Homo sapiens: one gene and its partners. The protein of the gene in region 1 purifies or fractionates together with the protein of each later gene. This does not show direct contact. Each region holds a gene or a part of one and is shown on either strand. Other genes may lie near its edges. The genes, in order: NEDD1, TUBGCP6 and CEP97.

Region 1 (3,654 bases):
AACCGAAGGAAAATAGGAGTAAAGTACTGCTACAGGAAAAGCCTTAGAGTTTAAGCTAATGCAATATATATCCACAGAAAACTTCAAGCAAAATATAGATATTTATATGAGAGTTGATTGTAAACAAAGAGTTGCTTTGTGTAGATAACTCTTAGAGTTAAACCAAATATTCCTTTAAATGTGATGAAGTTTGTATGGGTCTGCAGCACAAACTCTAAGGATAAGACTTTAATATGAAAGAGAAAAAGACATTTTCAGGTAGTTAACCAACCCTTTTCAAAGGGTCCTACATAATAATTCTATCTCTACCATATTAAAGACACATATTACACTGAAAATCTAATTCACACCAAAAGATCAAATCAACGTACCTGAATTTAACGATTCATATCCATTTCATTGTCTTTAGTAACACTCACACAACAGAAGTGTCCACAAACTTTAAACTCTTTGAACATTTTTAGTCTATGATTACTCTATTTCTCCTTTACAAGTTAAATAATGGGGATGATTTTTCAATCAAACACTTTCAAACATCAGGAAGTTTCATGTACTTACTTGGAGTTGAGGATCCATTGATTGGGGGTTCACATATCAACTGGGCTTCAATTTCATTCTCTGGCTTTTCAAATTTCTCAGAATTTCTTGTTTGGTTAGATGATGGAGAGGTATTTAGATTTCCACTTTCAGCACCAGATGTGACCAACTTTGCTAACTTTATATTTAAAATAAATAATGACTTTAATATACAATTTTTTTACTCATATTACCCATATAATTTTTGCCTACTTCTCTCTTTTGTCCCAGTATGTAGGTTAATAGAAATGAAGGAAAATAGGAAGAGATATAGAAGAAGAAAAAGAAAAAGAGAACTGGAGGCAAAATAAAGTAACACTTACTAATCAAAAACAATCTCAACAATAACATGAGGAAAAGCTCATTTACTAAGCACCTGCTGTTAAGTATCATTTAAAATAGAGATAACTGGCAAAACAAAAACAAAAACACCATGCATGTGGTAACCAGTCAATAATATTTGCAAAATAAATCAAAAGATGTTTTTGTACTTCTTACATGGTATCTTTTCAATATCATTCTAAACAATAAATACGAAAATACAGACATATTGTATACCCAACTGGCTTGGCCTTCCTGGTAATTTTTGATCATTTTGAACCCTTACATAAAAAATTAAATTCTGTATTATATATATATATTTTAGCAGAAAGTAACAATGATAAATTCCATTCTCAGCACCATCAGTTTGCTCTAATGATTTAACCACCAACTTGATGTTGTATACTGCAATGAAATACACTTTAAAAGGATTCAGGGATAAACTGTTCTTGCACACTTTATCAAGATATATCAAGTATCTCATCTTAGAAAAATACTGCAACTTTCCATCTGCTGTAACCTTCAACATATCCAAAGCGAGATTTCAAAGTATTCTGTAGTTATTAAAATCTGACATCAAGACTTATGAATAAGTGCATAGCAATGCTAATAATTAGGATACATGCACTGGCAGCCACCCACTTTCTACTGATAAACACATACAGTGAGTTCAGTATCATTTTCAGGCAAATACCTGTTTGAAGGAGTCTTTAGATTCCTGTTTTCCCATATATATTTTCTTAGACTCAGCTGTTAGATCACGGTTTTCATTTTCCTCTTTCCCTGGAGATCCCATAAAAACATTAAGAGGACTAGAATGCAATACTGAAGTACTTGAAGTTACTGGATTTTTTCTTGGAGGAAACACTGAGTTCAACTGCGGTAGAAAGTCAAAGCCTGGAAAAGGGAAAAACTGCATGTGCATATGGTGTCCTCCAATTTTGGACATTGAAGAAAAGCATTTAACATGATAGGCAGATTAACATGGAAGAAGATATGGATCTGCATTCTGAAGACTGGTTTGTTTCTCAGATACACCCCGCAATTGATGTGTATTTTTGGGCAAAAGTCTTAAACTTTCTGTGACTATTTCCCGATCTACAAATGTAAATGATGATATCCATCTCCCAGAGTGGTAAGGCTTCAAAGATATTATTTGTGAAAATACTTTGAAAACAGCAAAACACAATGTTTTAGTCAGTATTAGTTCTTGATAACTGAAAATTGTTAATTTGGTATATATCTGTGGTATGTATCTTGGAAGGCAATTTCTGAGATGGCTTCTAATGACCCCTGCCTTTGGCGTCGCTATCCTTGGGTAATCTCCTCCCTTTGAACGTGGCTTGGACCTAGTAACTTGCTTCTAACAAAAGTAATATGAAAAAGTAGTGAGATGTCACTACCAAGATTAAGGTTATTAACATAATCTTAAGAGAGGGCTTCCATTTTGGATGCCCTCTCGAATTCTCTTGTTCACCGGCTCTGAGGTAAACCAGCTGCCATGTTGTTGGCTGCCCCATATATAAAGAAGCTCATTGGCATGGAACTGATATCTCCAGCCAACAGCCATAGGAATGAGCTTGGAAACAGTTCCCTGCCCAGTTGAGTCTTAAGTTGAATGAAGCTCTGGTTGACATCCTGATTGAAGCAGGAAGATAGACTTGAAGGCAAAGGTACTCAGCCAAGTCATGCTCAGTTCTTAATACACAGAAATTATGAGACGATAAATGTTTATTTTTTTAAGCCTCAAAGTGTTGGAGAGATTTGTTACACAGCATAGATAATACAATTCACTTTTCATTTTCACGAAAATACTTCTAAGTAGTTCTTACCATCTCCTTTGCCTATGGACTCATCACTTCCCTTGTTAACTACAGCATCTATAACAAATTAGAAAATCAAATTTTAAAACTAGTGAAAAAGAAACCATATCAATTTAGGCTTCTTATTCATTCCCCAAAGAGTTCAGAGACTAACAATCTTAAAAAGCTAAATATGAGTGATGTTAAAGGTAGGAGAATACTGATTTAAATTTCTCTTTTACATTATTTTAGCTTCATTCACACTTTAGCAGCAAATATGAACAGATAATTCTATAGTACAGTCATTTAATGAGGCAGCAAGGTATAGTGTAACAAGCCCTGGTGTAGGGGGTAGGTTATGGAGAGCTATAATCCAGTTCTGCCTATACCACTTAATAGCTTTGTGACCTTGGACAAGTCTCAGATGCAATTAAGTTTCAGTTTCTGCATCTATAAAATGGGGATAATGTCCAGATAAGCTCACAAAATTGCTTTGAGGATCAATTGAAATAATACAAAAATATTTTGCAAAGCAGAACAAAGTTTTATTAGTGTTTATTTCCATGGTAGAATATGTATAAGATTATTTTAATCCTGTAATATTCATTTGCCAGTCCATAACAAAAATTGTAAAATTCAAATTTAACAGGTGAATTAAAAATGAGCCAAAGTCATTAACGAATTTACTAGAAATTCAAATGGCCAATAAACACACAACTATATCAGGAGAAATATCATCTATGTGCATGTGTGTATATGTTCCCAGTAATTGCACAGCATGTACATGCACACTTTTAGAAGTTATTAGCTTCCTTATCAATACTTTGGAACCATAATGAATCTGGAGGGCGTATGACTCAAATGCTAGTAACATTTTTAAACATAGCAAAAGTAATTAAAGAAAAAAGTAATTTATTCATTTGTCTTAAAAACTATTAAAGAGAATTTAATTTAT
Region 2 (3,654 bases), on another chromosome or scaffold:
GGTGCCACTGCACTCCAGCCTGGGCAACAGAACAAGACTCCGCCTCAATAAATAAATAAATACAAAAAAAAAACAGAAAAAAATACTATTAGCAGACATGTACAGAATAAAGCAATAACTTGTAGGGCCAGTTTTTTTTTTTGTTTTTTTTTTTGAGACGGAGTCTCGCTCTGTCACCCAGGCTGGAGTGCAGTGGCGCAATATCCGCTCACTGCAAACTCCGCCTCCCGGGTTCACGCCATTCTCCTGCCTCAGCCTCCCCAGTAGCTGGGACCACAGGCACCCGCCACCACGCCTGGCTAATTTTTTGTATTTTTAGTAGAGACGGGGTTTCACTGTGTTAGCCAGGATGGTCTCGATCTCCTGACCTCGTGATCCACCCGCCTCAGCCTCCCAAAGGCCAGTTTTTAAACGTGTGAGGGATTGGCAGAGAGCAGGACCATGAGATTTGCTTTGACTGATGCACCAGCAGGAAGTGACACAGCAGGAAGGCCCTGGCAGTCAGGATAAAGCCACCACCACCGTGCTGGGAAGCAGGGAGACAGCCAACCCTGAGGGAATCTTCATGATGTCAGGAAAGCTCGCCCACCCGGGGGCACATGCTCCTGTCCAGGCTGCCAGAGCCCAGCCACTGCATCCCAGAGCACTCAGCTCCCAGCCAGCCCTGACCCTTTCACCCAACACTCCCCAAACCGATACCCACAGGATCACCAGTGGACTGGATGTGAACGGGGCATTCCATGGCCAAACATTTGGGGAAGTGCGTGTTTTTTTGTTTGTTTGTTTTTTGTTTTTGAGACAATCTCACTCTGTCACCCAGGCTGGAGTGCAGTGGTGCAATCTCGGCTCACTGCAAACTCCACCTCCCAGGTTCAAGTGATTCTTGTGCCTCAACCTCCTGAGTAGCTGGGATTATAAGCGAGCACCACCACGCCCAGCTAATTTTTGTATTTTTAGTAGAGACGGGGTTTCACCATGTTGCCCAGGCCAGTCTCAAAATCCTGACTTCAAGTGATCTGCCCGCCTCAGCCTCCCAAAGTGCTGGGATTACAGATGTGAGCCACCGCGCCCAGGCGAAATGCATATTCTCTGCCTGGGTTCTGGGAGTTATCAAAAGATACCACCACATTAAAGACTCTGAGAGGTGCTGAGTGCAGAGGCCTCTGGACCCAGGTGAGCCAGGGAGTGAGTGGCTACCGCATCCAGAGAGCAAGCTGCTGGTACCAGTCAGGAAAAAGCTGCTGCAGCTGGAGCTTCTCATCACCCAGACTGCCCCTCCCAACTCCTCCAGACACGGACGGAAAAGGTTCCGTGTTCATCAGCACCCCAATTCCTCTAGACATGAATGGAAAAGGCTCCTTCATCAGCACCCCATGCCCAGTGAGCATTTCTTCCTGGCACTAATCACACAGCCTGCCAGGCAGCTCTCTTGCTCTTAAGGACATAACTTAGCTGCCCCAACTGCTCTGCCTGGCAGGTGTGATCTGGTTACTGGCACGGGGAGGGGAGCTCTGCCCGACAGGTGTGATCTGGTTACTGGCACAGGGAGGGGAGTTCTGCCCGACAGGTGTGATCTGGTTACTGGATGGGGAGGTGAGGCCTCCTTAAAGGCTGTTAGTGCTTTCCCCTCTGCATCTCTCTTAACTCCCAGGACTCAGTCAATTTTGGACACTAGCTTAGGTTACTAACCCATCACAACTGCCTGGACCCCTGAGTACACAACGCCCCCCACACACCCCATCCAAGGCCACGCTCATGCAGGGGTAGGGGCACTGCATGCCAAGGCAAAGAAGGGCACACACCAGCCAACTCGCTCCCAGCACCTCCGCTTGCTGGCCTCATAGGTAAGTGCGGCTTCCCACAGGTCCACGTCTGGGGTCACGCTGGGCTCAGACTGGGAATCAGGAGTCAAGTTGGACGCTGACTGGAATCCTTCGTCTTCCCACTGATCCACACTCGGTGGGACCTGGAGACACAGGGAAGGGCAAACCGCCACTTATTGCTGTGTCCACGTTTCATCCAAGGGCGATGAGAATTTCAGGAACTTTATGCAAAGACCTAACAAAATGTTTCTTCTGTTTTTCTCAAGCGCATGTGTACCATACAATGTTTCCCACCAATGAGCCATTTAAGGAATTAAACAAAATAAGTCGTCAAGGCTGCCAATTTCCAATTCCATGTAACACATAAGCCTCAGTGGAACTTAGAGTGAAACTTTTTGAGATGCCTCAGACCTGGAAATTCCAATGTGGGGAACCCAGAATTAAAAAAATCACACTCAACATTAAAACACTACTGTACACCGGGGCCAGGCGCAGTGGCTCACGCCTGTAATCCCAGCACTATGGGAGGCTGAGGCAGGTGGATCACCTGAGGTCAGGAGTTTGAGACCAGCCTGGCCAGCATGTGAAACCCCGTCTCTACTAAAAATATAAAAATCGGCCAGGCGTGGTGGTGGGCACCTGTGGTCCCAGCTACTCGGGAGGCTGAGGCAGAAGAATTGCTTGAACCCGGGAAGCGGAGGTTGCAGTGAGCCGAGATTGCGCCACCACACTCCAGTCTGGGCGACAGAGCAAGACTGTGGGCAGCAAGCCACCCAGGTGCCGAGGCAAGAGACCGAGGGCACGAGCTGTTCTAGTACAATAAAATATATAGAACAAGAATAGTTACACTATAGATCATAAATATGATTATATATGAACGTTATTAATCATTAGTTTGTAGCAATTGCTCTTTATTCCAAGATTATAATAATCTTCGCTCTACAATTGTAACTTACGAGAAACCAGGCCATACAGAGACAGGAGCTGAAGGGGCAAGGTGAGAAGTGACCAGAAGACAAGAGTGTGAGCCTTCTGTCATGCCCAGACAGGGCCACTAGAGGGCTCCTTAGTCTAGTGGTAATGGCAGCACCTGGGAAGACGCCCATTACCTAGCGGACCTTGGTCTAGCGGTAGCGTCAGTGCCTAGGAAAAGCACCCACTACTTAGCAGACCAGGAAAGGGAGTCTCCCTTTCCCTGGGGGAGTTAGAGAAGACTCTGCTCCACCACCTCTTGTGGAGGGCCTGACATGACTCAGGCCCACCCGCAGTTATCCAGAGGCCTAAACGTCTCCCTGTGATGCTGTGCTTCAGCAGTCACACTCCTAGTCCACTTTCATGTTCCATCCTGTACACCTGGCTCTGCCTTCTAGATAGCAGTAGCAAATTAGTGAAAGTACTAAAAGTCTCTGAAATGCAGAAATAATGGTGTAAGCTGTCTCCTCTCTCTCTGCTTCGGCTGCCAAACAGGGAAGGGCCCCCTGTCCAGTTGACACGTGACCCACGTGACCTTACCTATCATTGGAGATGACTCACACTCCTTACCCTGCCCCTTTTGCCTTGTATCCAATAAATAACAGCGCAGCCTGGCATTTGGGGCCACTACTGGTCTCCACGTGTTGGTGGTAGTGATCCCCCGGGCCCAGCTGTTTTTTCTTCTATCTCTGTCTTGTGTCTTTATTTCTACCATCTCTGGTCTCCGCATATGGAGAGAAAAACCCACAGACCCTGTAGGGCTGGTCCCTACACAAGACTCCATCTCAAAAAAAAAAAAAAAAAAAAAAAAAAGAACAATCAGGCCGGGCTCACGCCTGTAATCCCAGCACTTTGGGAG
Region 3 (3,654 bases), on another chromosome or scaffold:
TTCTTCCTTAATTTGCTTATAGAAAGGCTTTCCTTGACTCCGAAAGGAGGAAAAAAGGCTTTAAAAAAACATTTTACACCAGGGAGACTGGCAAATTTCAATAATTCACAATCCTCATATTTCTCATTTATATTTGCTTTATCAAATTTCATTCCTTGCTATATAATTAATTTTCTCAGACACAGAAGGGCCAAAATTCTCTTATTTATATATTTAAGGTAATTTTTTCTATTTTCTTTAATATATTCTAGCTTATTTTTGAAAGTAAATGAGTACATGAAAGAAACAGGAACATTGTTGATGCAATTCAGTTAAGAAATAAAGTGCATATAGCTTTCAATATAAATAGTTTGGTACCTTACAGCTAAGTAAAAAGCTAACAAAATCAAAATGAAAACTCAGCTCAATATCTAGAATCTGAAAAATATAAGACATGAATACAAATTCTATATAAGTAGTAACAAAATTAGGGGTAGGGAGTATTTCCCTCCAAAAAAAAGCAAAGGCAACTGAAAGTATTTTTAAGAAAAGTTAAGTGGATATCTGCCTCCCAAAAGACATGCTACACAGTAACACCAACATGCAATAGCTGAAATGTAGAATCACATTCTGGCTGCTGCCCCTGAACTTCTGCATTTAATTTAGAATTCTCTTGTGTCTGGCTAATTTCACCTTGCAAAGGAGGAGATATGCCATGACTCTCATCTACAGAAGCACCGTCAGACAATGTATCTAACTGTACTGGGAAACAAGCAATGTGAAGTTTGCTATCTCTTGTCTCTGTATCAAAATTGGTCCTCTCATCAGCATCTTCCAGCTGTTGAACTGAAGTTAAATACTGTTCAAGCAGACTATTGTCCTGCTCGTTATTTGAGCTTTCCTTATTCCATTCACCATGTTCTTCACTAACATCCCCTAAATCTGATTCTTTGCCATATCTGACTGTGTCAATGGAATTCCCCATTATGGAGCTTTCACTGCCTTCTGTGGAACTTTTCTCAAAATCCAAAGAATGCTGCAATGAATGAACTTGTTCTGTTAGAGAGGAATGAAAACCAGAGTCTGGAAATTCTGGTAATGATTTCTCTTGAGGAGCTACATCAGAAGCAATAAACCAATCAGCATTTTGATCACAAGAGGACTCCTGGCTTTGGGTAAATAATGGATGTTTCGATGGCACAAGAGTACTTGATATAGGAGGAACATCAGTATGCCAGGAACTTAGACGCTGGTCCACTGTCTGTTGCCAAACCTGTAGAGACCTTACCTATAAACCAGAGAATACAGTTGTATTATAAAATAAAAAGTGTTGTTTTTGTTTGTTTGTTTTTGAGACAGGGTCTCGCTCTGTCACCCAGGCTGGAGTGCAGCAGCACAATCATGGCTCACTGCAGCATCAACCTCCTGGGCTCAAGTGATCCTCCCACCCCACCTCTGCCTCCTAACCAGCTAGGACTCCAGGTGCCCACCACCATGTCTGCCTAATTTTTTTTTTTTTTTTTGAGATGGAGTTTCGCTCTTGTTACCCAGGCTGGAGTGCAATGGCACAATCTCGGCTTACCGCAACCTCCACCTCCCAGGTTCAAGCAATTCTCCTGCCTCAGCTTCCCAAGTAGCTGGGATTACAGGCACCCACCATCACACCTGGCTAATTTTCTATTTTTAGTAGAGACAGGGTTTCCCCATGTTGGTCAGGCTGGTCTCAAACTCCTGACGTCAGGTGATCCGCCCACCTTGGCCTCCCAAAGTGCTAGGATTACAGGCGTGAGCCACCGTGTCCGTCCATCTGGCTAATTTTTAAAATTTTTTCTGTAGAGATGAGGTCTCGCTTTGTTGCCCAGGATGGTCTTGAACTCCTGGGCTCAAGCAATCCTTCTGCCTTGGCCTCCCAAGTGCTGGGATTACGGGCACAAGCCACCACACCCCACCTGTCTATTTTACAATTTTCCTTTGAGCTCTTTTTTCCAGCAGTCATGAAGCTGGCAAATGGCAGAACTGGAGCTAGAAACTGCTGACTCCCTTTATCTTTTCCATAGCATCCCAAGCCTAAAACCAGACTGGCACAAATGGTACATGTCCCTGGTAACAAAAGGCCCTCACCAGGAGTGGGAATGGGCCAAAGCAATTCTCTTGCTTCTACAAGAAAAACAGCAAGAAGCACAACAGTACATGTCTAGCTGACTAAGGGGTCAATAATGCGCAACAGCACATGCCTAGCTGAATAAGGGGTCAATAATGTATTCAAGATATAATGAGATCTATTCAATAAGACAGGTTAGAGCCCTTGAAATAAGTAGATCTTGTAAAATAAGTCTCATTTTAGATACCCAGGTAGAGATTACAGTTTTTAAGTATTAGCTAACAATATAGTATATGCAACTTTCTAAAATACCTAAAAACATACCAAATTCTTGATAATATGACCCCTAATTTCTAAAGTATAACAAAAATTCCAAAATTTTACTGTAAAAACTGCAAACAAGAAAGCAGTATGTACAGTTTTTAGTTTCCCTTTGACCCCCCGCCCAAGGTAATTACTGACAGCAACTTGATGCATATCCTTCCAGACTTTTTTCTAGGTCGTATTTTCAAATATACAGGGAAGCTGAGCACACTGGTGTGTGCCTGTAGTCCCAGCTGCTTGGGAGGTTGCAGCAGAAGGATCACTTGAGGAGTTCAAGGCTGTAATGCGCTAGTGCTGTTTTTTTTTTTTACTAAACAGTATTATTTTGGAGATCTTTCCATGTTGGTGAATACCATTACCTTATTTTTTTTAACTATTCCATGGTATTCCACAGTATTATTATTCTATAATTTAACCATTCCTCTATTGTTGGTAACTACAAAACTTTACAAATCAATAATTATTTTTTCATTTTATAGGTCAAATCCTATTATAACAAATTTGGCCAGGTGATGTGGCTCACTTTGGGAGGCTGAGGAGGGAAGACTGCTTGAGCCCAGAAGTTTGAGACCGGCCTGGGCAATATGGCAAGACCCCATTTCTATAAAAAAGAAGAAATGAAAATTTTATTAAAATATTTTCAAGAAATTATCATCAAGAAGTATTTGATGTGATACAATGCTAGTAAAACCAACTGCCTAAACTGTCCCTAAAGTGTGCTATTATAGGATTCAAATACTCTCCTATACAGTTATGAATACTTTTTAGGACATGCATATTGTAGTCATATACCATCTTAATCACAATTCATTCAAATATTCCCAAAAGACAGATCGATAGCTACATGAAATTTCAAATTGGGGTTGTTGTATCTATTGGAAAGCTCTAACAGCCTTCAGTTAAGCCACTTTCCTCCTGCTTTATACTATTTTGTTTTTCTTGTCAAAATTGTCAGAATATTTTTCTTCAGATTAAATAAAATGCAAGAAAATTCACTGTCCTAGTTCACAGTTAGTGGCGAAGAACACAAGCCATACCCTTAACCTTGAACAAGAGTGCTTAATACACCTGAGTACTCTATGATTATCTCAATGAATATAGAATCTGTATTTGATCATATATGAGGTAAATCAGCAGGAGGGAGTTTACCTGGTTCCAAAGGAATCTGAAAGCTTCTTCTTGTACAAATTTTTTAATACGTTCTTCATCTCTTTCTTTTCGTAATCTACAATAATTCAAAACACATTATT

The links.
Region 2: the proteins of NEDD1 (region 1) and TUBGCP6 purify together in Homo sapiens (affinity purification with mass spectrometry; 3 studies listed by BioGRID and IntAct, with this or other methods). This does not show direct contact.
Region 3: the proteins of NEDD1 (region 1) and CEP97 purify together in Homo sapiens (affinity purification with mass spectrometry; 2 studies listed by BioGRID and IntAct, with this or other methods). This does not show direct contact.

The regions. Positions count from the first base shown.
Region 1 is NC_000012.12:96,941,700-96,945,353, reverse strand, and holds part of NEDD1 (protein NEDD1), read right to left. Parts: intron 2,778-3,654; coding exon 2,730-2,777; intron 1,795-2,729; coding exon 1,592-1,794; intron 716-1,591; coding exon 559-715; intron 1-558. UniProt on the Homo sapiens protein: Required for mitosis progression. Promotes the nucleation of microtubules from the spindle.
Region 2 is NC_000022.11:50,238,402-50,242,055, forward strand, and holds part of TUBGCP6 (gamma-tubulin complex component 6), read right to left. Parts: intron 1,967-3,654; coding exon 1,803-1,966; intron 1-1,802. UniProt on the Homo sapiens protein: Component of the gamma-tubulin ring complex (gTuRC) which mediates microtubule nucleation.
Region 3 is NC_000003.12:101,762,460-101,766,113, reverse strand, and holds part of CEP97 (centrosomal protein of 97 kDa), read right to left. Parts: intron 3,630-3,654; coding exon 3,554-3,629; intron 1,268-3,553; coding exon 563-1,267; 3' UTR 1-562. UniProt on the Homo sapiens protein: Acts as a key negative regulator of ciliogenesis in collaboration with CCP110 by capping the mother centriole thereby preventing cilia formation. Required for recruitment of CCP110 to the centrosome.